3 linked regions of the Homo sapiens genome follow. The protein of the gene in region 3 purifies or fractionates together with the protein of the main gene of each other region. This does not show direct contact. Each region holds a gene or a part of one and is shown on either strand. Other genes may lie near its edges. The genes, in order: TIMP2, TCEAL8 and NPEPPS.

What was found.
Region 1: the proteins of NPEPPS (region 3) and TIMP2 purify together in Homo sapiens (co-immunoprecipitation; one large-scale study listed by IntAct). This does not show direct contact.
Region 2: the proteins of NPEPPS (region 3) and TCEAL8 purify together in Homo sapiens (affinity purification with mass spectrometry; one large-scale study listed by BioGRID and IntAct). This does not show direct contact.

What each region holds. Positions count from the first base shown.
Region 1 is NC_000017.11:78,869,740-78,873,458, forward strand, and holds part of TIMP2 (metalloproteinase inhibitor 2 precursor), read right to left. Parts: intron 1,268-3,719; coding exon 1,159-1,267; intron 1-1,158. UniProt on the Homo sapiens protein: Complexes with metalloproteinases (such as collagenases) and irreversibly inactivates them by binding to their catalytic zinc cofactor. Known to act on MMP-1, MMP-2, MMP-3, MMP-7, MMP-8, MMP-9, MMP-10, MMP-13, MMP-14, MMP-15, MMP-16 and MMP-19.
Region 2 is NC_000023.11:103,253,045-103,256,863, forward strand, and holds the start of TCEAL8 (transcription elongation factor A protein-like 8), read right to left. Parts: upstream 2,112-3,819; 5' UTR 2,034-2,111; intron 1,634-2,033; 5' UTR 1,561-1,633; intron 974-1,560; 5' UTR 936-973; coding exon 582-935; 3' UTR 1-581. UniProt on the Homo sapiens protein: May be involved in transcriptional regulation.
Region 3 is NC_000017.11:47,583,108-47,586,618, forward strand, and holds part of NPEPPS (puromycin-sensitive aminopeptidase), read left to right. Parts: intron 1-2,392; coding exon 2,393-2,593; intron 2,594-3,040; coding exon 3,041-3,137; intron 3,138-3,257; coding exon 3,258-3,291; intron 3,292-3,511. UniProt on the Homo sapiens protein: Aminopeptidase with broad substrate specificity for several peptides. Involved in proteolytic events essential for cell growth and viability. May act as regulator of neuropeptide activity.

The sequences.
Region 1 (3,719 bases), about 31 Mb from region 3:
GGGAAGCGGAGGTTGCAGTGAGCCGAGATAGTGCCATTGCACCCCAGCCTGGGAAATAGAGCGAGACTCTGTCTCAAAAACAAAAAAAAGAGTAAGGAAATTCTGATGTATGCTGTAACGTGAACGAACCTTGAAAACATGATGCTACTGAAATAAGCCAGACAGAGAGGACAAACACTGCAGGGTTCCACCCATGTGAGGCCCCTGGAGTAGTCAAATCCACAGAGACAGAAAGTAAAATGGAGGTGGGCCAAGGCTGAGGAAGAGAGAAGGGGGAGTTAGTGTTTAACGGGGACGGAGTTTTGGTTTGGGAAGATGTGGAGACAGATGGTGGTGATGGTTGCACAATAGCGAATGTATCTAATGCCACTGAAGTGTACACTTGAAAATGGTTGGCCGGGCGCGGTGGCTCGCGCCTGTAATCCTGCCACTTTGGGAGGCCGAGGTGGGTGGATCACCTGAGGTCAGGAGTTCGAGACCAGCCTGACCAACACGGTAGAACCCCATCTCTACTAAAAATACAAAAATTAGCTGGGCGTGGTGGCGTGTGCCTGTAATCCCAACTACTCGGGAGGCTGAGGCAGGAGAATCGCTTGAACCCAGGAGGTGGAGGTTGCAGTAAGCCAAGATCGCACCACTGCACTCCAGCCTGGGCGACAGAGCGACACTCTGTCTCAAAAAAAAAGAAAGAAAGAAAGAAAGAAAGAAAGAAAATGGTTAATTAACATGGCTACATTTTGTTACGTATTATTTTACCACAATAAAAAAAGGAGACAGATGAATGAATAAGTCAAGCAGGTCTCGTGCATAGTATCCACAGATGTTACGCGAGCTTTTGGCCCTCCCGACGGCAGAAAGGGTTTCTCTGCCCTGCATGTCTCCAGCATCCCGCACTCGCCTCCCTTTTAGGAACAAAAGGCAAAAATGCTCCCTTTTTTTTGTCCACCAATCTCAAATTTCCCAGGAAATTGGCAGGTAGTGAACATTCACTAGCATTCTCTGACGGGAAGTGGCCGAGAGGGCTCCGTACCCTGCCTCACTGTTCCTCAGCTACTCCGCCTCCCCACCCCCCGAGCCTGGGAAACGAGCCCTGGACCGCGTCTAGGAACAGCCCCACTTCTGTGCCAGCCTCCGGCTGATGGCCCCACTCATACACACCTGCAATGAGATATTCCTTCTTTCCTCCAACGTCCAGCGAGACCCCACACACTGCCGAGGAGGGGGCCGTGTAGATAAACTCTATATCCTTCTCAGGCCCTTTGAACATCTGGAAAGACAAGGAGGAGGACATGTAAGCAGAGGGAGGCCACACAGTTGGTGAATTCCGTTCCCATCCAGAACACCCTGGGCGGCACAACCTGTAGCTGGGGTACAGCCAGCACCCAAGAGGACCAGGAAGTGCAAATACATGGGTTAGGAAAAGACCGTTCCAGCTGGGCTCAGGGCTCATGGCTGTAGTCCCAGCACTTTGGGAGGCTGAGGTGGGCAGGTCGCTTGAGGTCAGGAGTTTGAGACCAGCCTGGCCAACGTAGCAAAACCCTGTTTCTACTAAAAATACAAAAATTAGCTGAGCATGGTGGCAAGCGCCTGTAATCCCAGCTATGTGGGAGGCTGAGGCAGGAGAATCGCTTGAACCTGCGAGGTGGAGGTTGCAGTGAGCTGAGATGGCGCCACTGTACTCCTACCTGTATGACAGAGTAAGACTCCGTCAAAAAAAAAAAAAAAAAAAAAGAAAAGAAAAAGACTTCTTATAGCAAAGTGATTCTTTGGAGTCACTCAACTTTTAGTGTGGCAGATCACAGCAGGTGAGCACAAGACTCATCTGTGCCGGGCGAAGTGGCTCACACCAGTAATCCCAGCACTTTGGGAGGCCGAGGCAGGCAGATCACGAGGTCAGAAGATCGACACCATCCTGGCTAACATGGTGAAACCCTGTCTCTACTAAAAATACAGAAATTTAGCTGGGCGTGGTGGCGGGCGCCTGTAGTCCCAGCTACTCGGGAGGCTGAGGCAGGAGAATGGCGTGAACCCAGGAGGCGGAGCTTGCAGTGAGCCATGATCGTGCCACTGCGCTCCAGCCTGGGAGACAGCAAGACTCCATCTCAAAAAAAAAAAAAAAGACTGTCATCTGGAGCATGACATCCTCAGACAACACCTCTGTTCCCTCACCCCCCACCCCAAAGAGGTCATTTCTGAATCTATGGGGAGGGGCTTTTGTACCTCCACGTGACTCTGGACCACCATGAAGGACCATGACTTTTGCATATTTCCAGGAATTTTTTATTTTTTTGAGATAGGGTCTCACTCTGTTGCTCAGGCTGGGGCTGCAACCTCAACTTCCCAGGCTCAAGTGATCCTCCCACCTCAGCCTCCCGAGTAGCTGGGACTATAGGCGCATGCCACCATGCTTGGCTTTTTTTTTTTTTTAATTAGCAGAGACGAGGTCTCGCTCTATTACCCAGGCTGGTCTCAAACTCCTGAGCTCAAGCAATCCTCCTGCCTCGGCCTCCCAAAGTTCTGGGATTACAGGCATAAGTCACTCCACCCAACCTATATTTCCAGGAATTTTGGTCAAATATTGTCTACTTGATGGCAATGAGAGCAGAGAGGCACCTCAGGAATTAGGACATAACTCCATGGGCCAGAAGAGTTTGCTTTCTCAACATGTGATTTACTCACAGCCTTTCAGGAACGCACCTGCTGCCCAGGTGAAGAATGGCATTTTCTCAGCACTCAGGGAGGCTGTTTTTTTCCCCCCGAAGAGTTTCAATAAGCAAACCCAAATGGAATGGAAGCATGCCTGATGTCATGACAAATGGCTTGAGAGTGACACTCCAGCTTGTACCAGGAAAGGTTATGTTGATGCTGTACTAAATGACATCATTTGCCAAAAGGCTAAAAGCATTTCCTGGGCACTGGCACTGGCCTTTTCACGACCCCTTTATGAGGTCGTAAGAGCAGATCCTCTTTCCTGCTTCGTAAAGAAAGAGACTCAGGCACTGAGAGACTAGGTCATCCCCTTAAACTGACATACATGTGATGATGAAGCATTCCACTGACCTTCTGATAACATTGATTTTCAGCTACTTTTTTTTTTTTCTTTTTTTGAGATGGAGTTTCGCTCTTGTCGCACAGGCTGGAATGCAGTGGTGCAATCTCAGCTCACGGCAACCTCTGCCTCCCAGGTTTAAGTGTTCTCCTGCCTCAGCCTCCCAAGTAGCTGGGATCACAGGCACTCGCCACCACGCCCAGCTAATTTTTGTATTTTTAGTAGATACATGGGGTTTCTCCATGTTGGCCAGGCTGGTCTTGAACTCCTGACTTCAGGTGATCCACTCACCTGGGACTATACTCATGAGACACTGTGCCTGGTTTACTTTTTATTTTTAATGACAAAATTAAATATCGATGACTACAACTACCACCATATCACACGGCTGTCCCTCCACCTGCGACATGAATTTTCGTCTCTCTTACAGACCATGTTAGTTACTGTCAATGACAATAGCATCACCTCTCCTGCCCCAGGCCAGGCCCTGCCCTCCCTGCCCTCCCTGCCACATATTTTTTTTTTTTTTTTTTAATACAAGCTCTCACTCTGTCACCCAGGCTGGAATACAGTGGTGAGATGTCTCACTGCAACCTCTGCCTCCTGGGCTTAAGCGATTCTCCCACCTCAGCCTCCCGAATAGCTGGGACCACAGGTGGGCGCTACCATG
Region 2 (3,819 bases), on a different chromosome or scaffold from region 3:
ATTTGAGGTTTACATTTCTTTTTAAAGTTCTTTCATCAAGAGTTTAGGTGCCCCCATTGCCCTCATAAGCTGGTTGCAAATTATTTGACTCTTACTTGTAAAAAAAATCCTTAATTCTTTTTGTGTGTGAGACACGTGTTCATTAAAAAGTACATATAAGCAAAAAGAACAAAAAGAAGAAAACAAATAAAATTTCACACCACACAGAAATAAGCTTGGTTAAGTTTGTGATATATGTTATATGGATGTATGTATACACACACGCACACACACAAAGTTTGGAATTTTATCCTACATATGTGAGCTGATATTAAATATGCTGCTTTGCCATAACCTGTTATGTTTTACTTTACAACATGGAATGAACATATTCCCATGCAAATGTGTGAAAGTTTCCAATTGAAAAATAGACCTGGAAAATGGGTCAAAATCCAAAATCCAATGAGATGCTGGTACCAAGGAAATTACCTAAAACAAAATTTCATCAGATGATTAAAAGTAAAATGGAGGTCAAAGATACATCAGAAAATGCTAACAGAAAGAAAGCTGGGGCCAGATTTTAATATTAGGCAAAAATGAATTCAAGGCCTAAAGCACACAGGATAAGGACGGCTGCGTGAATGTCTTTGCTTCCAATGCATCATCACAAACTTGTTTCTTACTCTTCTTATCTCTTCCCTAAGCCTTTCAAGCTCATCTACTCCTCTTATCATTTCTTCAGGGTCCAAATGCCTAACGGGTGTGTCCTCTTTAAATCCCTGGCCAGGCTGATTCGGCCCTCCTCTGGGGTTTCCTTCTGCTTCCTGGCTTACGCCTTCTTCGGAAGGTTGAGGATTTCCTTCTGCCTCCTGTGGTACATCCTCCAAAGGGCGATCTTCCTCGGCCTTTGGCATGTTCTGTGGTTTTCCCTCATTTTCTTCACAAGACTTTTGCATATTGAGTATTTTTTATTTCCTTTTTGAATAAATTAATCCTAGAAAACAAGGAAACAAAACTACTAGATTCCAGGCAAACAGACCAGCAGTCAGAGTATGGGGTCCCATAGCGACTGGCCTTTTTTGACTCAGTACCCTAATTGTCAAAAGTTTTCCAACTAGAGAAAGCTGGATCCTCAGGCTCAGAACTCCCCTGACTCCACCTCCCTTCGCGCCCCCTTTCGTTCCAGCTCCATCTTTCTCCTCCTGCTCCTGCCCACCATCTTCCCAGCAGGCCCTGCTACAAGCCTCTCCTAATACTGAAATGGGAGCAGTACGGAAGCAATTAACCCTTCTCCCGCCTCTGGTCTCCAACACTCCCGCCCTTCAGACTTTCCCAGGCCCTCTCAACCTCCAGCCTCTCACCTGAGACGGCTGGTCCAGTCTCTGGCCTCCCCTCCCCCTTCAGCGTCTCTTAAGCCTCCTCCTCCCCCGCCTCATTTCCGCTGCAGGCTCGGCACCGGCCTCTGGCACTTAATCCGGATGGGGAGGGGCTGCTGCGACCCCAGGATGTGCTTTGGTGTCACTCACACTTCCACCCCCACCCGAAGAGACCTGAAGCAATTGCACCTTTACAAAAACTGACCTGCAGGGATTCAGGGGATTTTCCTCTCTCTTCCCTCACCTCGATTTGTGTCGCGCCCAAAAAACCAAATATCCTGCAGACAGATGGGAGTGTTTGGTGAGCAGACTAGTACCTGGATCACGGGTCCCTTTCATGATTCTAGGCCATGTTGGTGTAAAGTTTCCCATGTCCTCATCCTCGCCCTCCTTTTATGGCAACCCCGCCCTCCTCCGTGCCCACCGTTTTTCTGCAAGCAGGGAGTAGGAAAAGCAAGTTTCTTCCAAACAGTTTCTATGTCTCTCTCTCAGGACCCTTAATTAGCTACCCTTCTCTCTCTCCACCCGCCATCCCCCACCAAACAGCCCCAAATTTCCTGCACAAAATGGGAGTTTGGCGGAACAGAAGTGGGGAAAGCAGTGCCGGCCCCGCTTGCTTTCTGCTCTCGGCCTCCTCGACCCCAGGGTCTCCAAGTCAGCGCCCACGTTTATACTAACCTGAAAGGATCTTGGGCACTTTTCTCCTTCTCCAGCAATAAGGAGCTGCTACAGGGAAACAGGCCCTGGACTATAAGGACTTCTGCACACGTCGACTCCTGGTCACGTGAGAGTCGCGTCATCACTGAGCTCGAGTCCCCAGTTACCCCTCCCATTAACACTGCAGCCCGCCCGCTGCGTTCCCTCCACTTGATACTGTCAATCTTTTTTCGTATTTGCCAATCGGAGACAATAAACTGTTATCTTCGCCCTGGAGTATTTATTCGCCTTTCTCAGATTACCAGGAGGATCAGCCTTTTAGGGGTAATCGACCATTTCTCCTTCTTTGAGGAATCATCTCTTTCTTCTGCTCCCAATACTCCCACCTCCCCTCCTCCAAGACCCCTACAGTCCACCATTTCCCCTGGAATCCTATCCAGCATTGAAATGGGCAAAGGTGGTAGATCGGGAAGAGGGGGCTGGAAAAGAATCTAAGGTTGAAAGTGGAGGATTTGACTAATCCTCTTGAATAGTTTTCTGTTGTGTTCTATGTTTTCAGCAATCAGCATACTTTTAAAAATGGTATCAGAAAACGGATGCCTCATAAGCAATATGTAACACTTAATATGAAGGACAAATTAGTTATATCAATGTGTAAGACTTTGGAAAAGTTTTCTAATGGCTGGAAATGAAATGACAATATTCACAACATATTGATGTGTTAGAATTTTTTAAAATCTTACCAAACAGCACTTAAAAAATTGACTCCCAAATTAATGTGTGGAAGGAGGCCTAGTTTTCTCTTGTTAGCAATTTTGTATAGGTAATCTACTACTCTTTCTATTTCTGGCAGAACTCAAGTTATCAAGTGTTGGATGTCTGATCTTTTTCATTGATGACCACTGGTGGCATCCACTAAGGTTTCACTTGGAGGCTTCAGACAGACTTCCTCCCCATTTCCTCTATAGGATTCAGTATCTTGTTAATCAGATAAGTCCACAGAAAAGCCTGCTTTCCACTGAGTAAAATTCTTTTGGAACTCAAAGTAGTATGTTTCTTGGAAAACATTTCGTTGTTGGGAAATAACTCATACACTCATGAAACACTCAGAAAAGAGAATTCTCTGTATCTCACCATCAGGCTTGAGGCTTCTTTGCATGGCATTTTCATTCATGGCACTCTTGAGATAGTCTGGTATCATCCACTGTGTCCCATTAAAAGAACTATTGACATGCATAATTGTTATGATTAGAAAGCAAAGAGAACAACATTGCTGTAAAAAATAATATTAAACAGGAAACTGATATCCCTGCAACTCAGAATCCACTGGTACTTGGAAGGATGGTGGTGCCTGGAGTGGCATTCTGGCCAATGGAGCCAGCTGGAGAGTCAGAAGAAGACAGAGGGGGTCTTTTGTCTAGGGTGGTCACAGCAGGATGCCTTAGCCAACAAGAACACCCACCAGAGAAGAGAAAAGAAGGTTTGGAAAAAATAAATATTTTTTGGACTTAATGATTTATAGTTGAAGCATGACAAATTTCTTCCACACTTGAGGGATAAATGTTCTATTGTTTGAGAGAGAGCTTTTAATATAAATATAACTAGCAAATTATAAAGATTTAATCATTGCCTATCACCAAATGTTTCCACTCTTTTAAATGTAACCATTTAGTGAGGAACAACTCTGATCTTTTAAAAGAAAAATCATCAGCAGCAAAATGGACTTTGTGTGTGTGTACACTTCTATGAAGTTTAACCAATGTATAGATTTGTTTAACCACCACTGCAATCAGAATACAGTTCAATC
Region 3 (3,511 bases):
AAAGTGCTGGGATTACAGGCATGAGCCACCATGCCCAGCCAAGACCTCTTTTTCTTGATAGCTTTATTTTTGGAGGATTTTCTCTTTGTCAAATTCCTCGTTAAATACATTTATAAGATTATCTACTTCTTTTAATTTAGAGAGGTAAATTGACAAGTTTAATAGATTTATAGTAACTAAAAGCAAAAGGTCTTGGGCTGGATATGGTGGCTTACACCTGTCATCCCAGCACTTTGGGAAGTCAAGGTAGGCAGATCGCTTGAGGTCAGGAGTTGAAGACCAGCCTGGCCAACATGGTGAAAACCTGTCCTTACTAAAAATACAAAAATTATCTGAGTGTGGTTGCACACACCTGTAGTCCCAGCTAGTTGGGAGGCCGAGGTGGGAGGATCACTTGAACCCAGGAAGCGGAGTTTGTAGTGAGCTGAGATCACACCACTGCACTCCAGCCTGGGTGACAGAGCCAGACCCTATCTCAGAAAAAAAAAAAAGAAAAAGGTCTTGACTTATTAAATGTCATAAGAAAGCCAGGTACAGTGACTCTTGCTTGTAATCTCAGTGCTTTGGGAGGCTAAGGCAGGAGGATTGCTTGAGGCCAGGAGTTTGACACCAGTCTGGGCAACATAGTGAGACCTCATTTCTACAAAAGATTTAAAACTTAAAAGTTAGCCAGGTATGGTGGCACGTGTCTGTAATCCTAACTACTTGGGAGGCTAATGTGGGAGGATCTCTCGAACTTAGGAGTTTGAGGCTACAGGGAGCCGTGATTGTGCCACTGTATTCCAGCCTGGGTGACAGAACAAGACCCCATCTCTTAAAAAAAAAAAAATAGGCCAGGCATGGTGGCTCATGCCTGTAATCCCAGCACTTCAGGAGGCTGAGGCAGGTGGATCATTTGAGGCCAGGAGTTCGAGACCAGCCTGGCCAACATGGTGAAACCCCATCTCTACTAAAAATACAAAAATTAGCCAGATATGGTGGCAGGCACCTGTAACCCCAGCTACTTGGGAGGCTGAGGCAGGAGAATTGCTTGAACCTGGGAGGTGGAGGCTGCAGTGAGTTGAGATCGCGCCACTCCACTCCAGCCTGGGTGACAGAGCAAGACTCCATCTCGGGGGAAAAAAAAAAAAAAGGTTGCAACAGAGCAAGACCCTGTCTCTTATGTTTTTAAAAAGTTAAAAAAATTCAAAAGATGTAGCTGCGTAATGAAGTATATTTAGGTCTCTGGCTGTTTGTATTCTTGGAATGTATTCTCTTCACCAGTGTTATTGATCTCATTCATGAACAGGGTAAGCATTCCCCACTTGAAGTGTGTTGTCTAGGACTGTCTTGTGTGGGGAACTTGGAAAAACCTGCTGCACCTGAAAATAACTCTTTTATGTATTTATTGGGGGAGAGCATCCCATAAATAGAATGTCATTCTCTTCTCACATATTCTTAGAAGAGGAGGCTAATATATTAAACGGAAATATTCATTCACACTTTAGTATGAGTGAATTTATCAGTGTGTTCTTGAATAAGTCTTCCTTGGAAGGAAGAATAGAGAGAGCTTGAGGAAACAGAGCCTGAATAGGAAAAAGAGGGAGAACACCAAAGGAAATTAGGGACTCCAAAGGTAAAGTTGAAATTTCTTCACAAATAAGCTTAGAGCCAACTTTGGTAGAGAATGCCCTCGATCTAGAAGTTTGTATCCTTTGAAATGGGAGATTCTACAATTATATTATATTTATTTATTTTTGAGAAGGAGTCTCGCTGTGTCGCCCAGGCTGGAGTGCAGTGGTGTGATCCCAGCTCACTGCAAGCTCCGCCTCCCTAGTTCACGACATTCTCCTGCCTCAGCCTCCCAAGTAGCTGGGATTACAGGCACCCCCCACCATGCCTGGCTAATGTTTTGTATTTTTAGTAGAGATGGGGTTTCACCATGTTAGCCAGGATGGTCTTGATCTCCTGACCTTGTGATTCGCCTGCCTAAGCCTCCCAAAGTGCTGGTATTACAGGCGTGAGCCACCGCGCCTAGCCCCTATTTTATTTTTATTAATAGTCATTTTCTCCTAAACTTATGTCAGTTGAAAAGTATGAAGCCCTTAACTTAAATCATCCCAATGCCTGGCTTATAATAAGTATTTGAGAAAAGTCCATTCCTCTTTTCTTTCACAGGTCCTTGGTAGTTTTAACACTTCAGCCTCCAGCTTCTTAGTATGAGTGTTTTATCAGACCACTTTCCTTCTTAAAGACAGCATAAAAGCACTGGATGAATTGGGGTAGAGAAATAAGCCATGCTAGAATAGAAAGGGGTAAAGAGATGCAATAAAGCCTACAGTTTTTGGCTGGTATTTGCTCTATGGTATTAATGTAAACCTATTTAAATTTTTCTTTTTTTTATTTCTTAAAGAATGTAATTGACCGGAAACCATACCCTGATGATGAAAATTTAGTGGAAGTGAAGTTTGCCCGCACACCTGTTATGTCTACATATCTGGTGGCATTTGTTGTGGGTGAATATGACTTTGTAGAAACAAGGTCAAAAGATGGTGTGTGTGTCCGTGTTTACACTCCTGTTGGCAAAGCAGAGCAAGGAAAATTTGCGTTAGAGGTAAATGTACTTGAAGAGGATTGTTCCAACAGTCCATAACTCCAGGTTGGGGAATTTACATTTCTGGTCAATTATTAGTACAGTTATTTATAATTTAATCTGAAAGTTGTGCTACTTGGTTTATTTTTAGTAGAATTTAGGAAATGCCAACCTTGGTGTTTCATTATTTTACAAAATAATAATTAAGAGAATATAAGAGTGGAATTTCTCTAGGGAATGGGTTGGAAAATATGTAGTTATATTTTTCATATCAAGTTATAAATGGATTAAAGTTTGGCCATTGTATTCAAAGTTTGGAGCTAAGGCAGTCTTCGGAGGGTAGGGCTCCTCGGGATTCATTTCTAGTAATTTAAGATACATTGGCTTGCAACAGGATTCCTTTGTGGGTTTCAATATGAATTATAATAACATATTTATTAGATGGTTATTTTGTTTATACTTTTATAGGTTGCTGCTAAAACCTTGCCTTTTTATAAGGACTACTTCAATGTTCCTTATCCTCTACCTAAAATTGATCTCATTGCTATTGCAGACTTTGCAGCTGGTAAAGTAAATTTCATTTTATTGCTGAATTGTAATAACTTTTTAAAATTTTGTGACTTTTGATGCAAGAGTATATATATATATATATATATCAATAAATGTTTATATTTATTTTGTGAAGGTGCCATGGAGAACTGGGGCCTTGTTACTTATAGGTATGTTAATGATGTGTTACCCTGCCTTATCTTTTCAAATCACTGATTTCAAAAGGGCTTCCCTCCTAATCACAGTTGAGTAGCTTCTGCTTTACGATATGGTGTAAATTTTTCTACCTTCCCCCACTTCCGTGCACATTTCAAGAATGCAGATGGACACCCCTCCCTTTGGTGCTACTGTCTGAGGGTGTAAGATTTTAAAGTGAGCATCTGGCGGTAG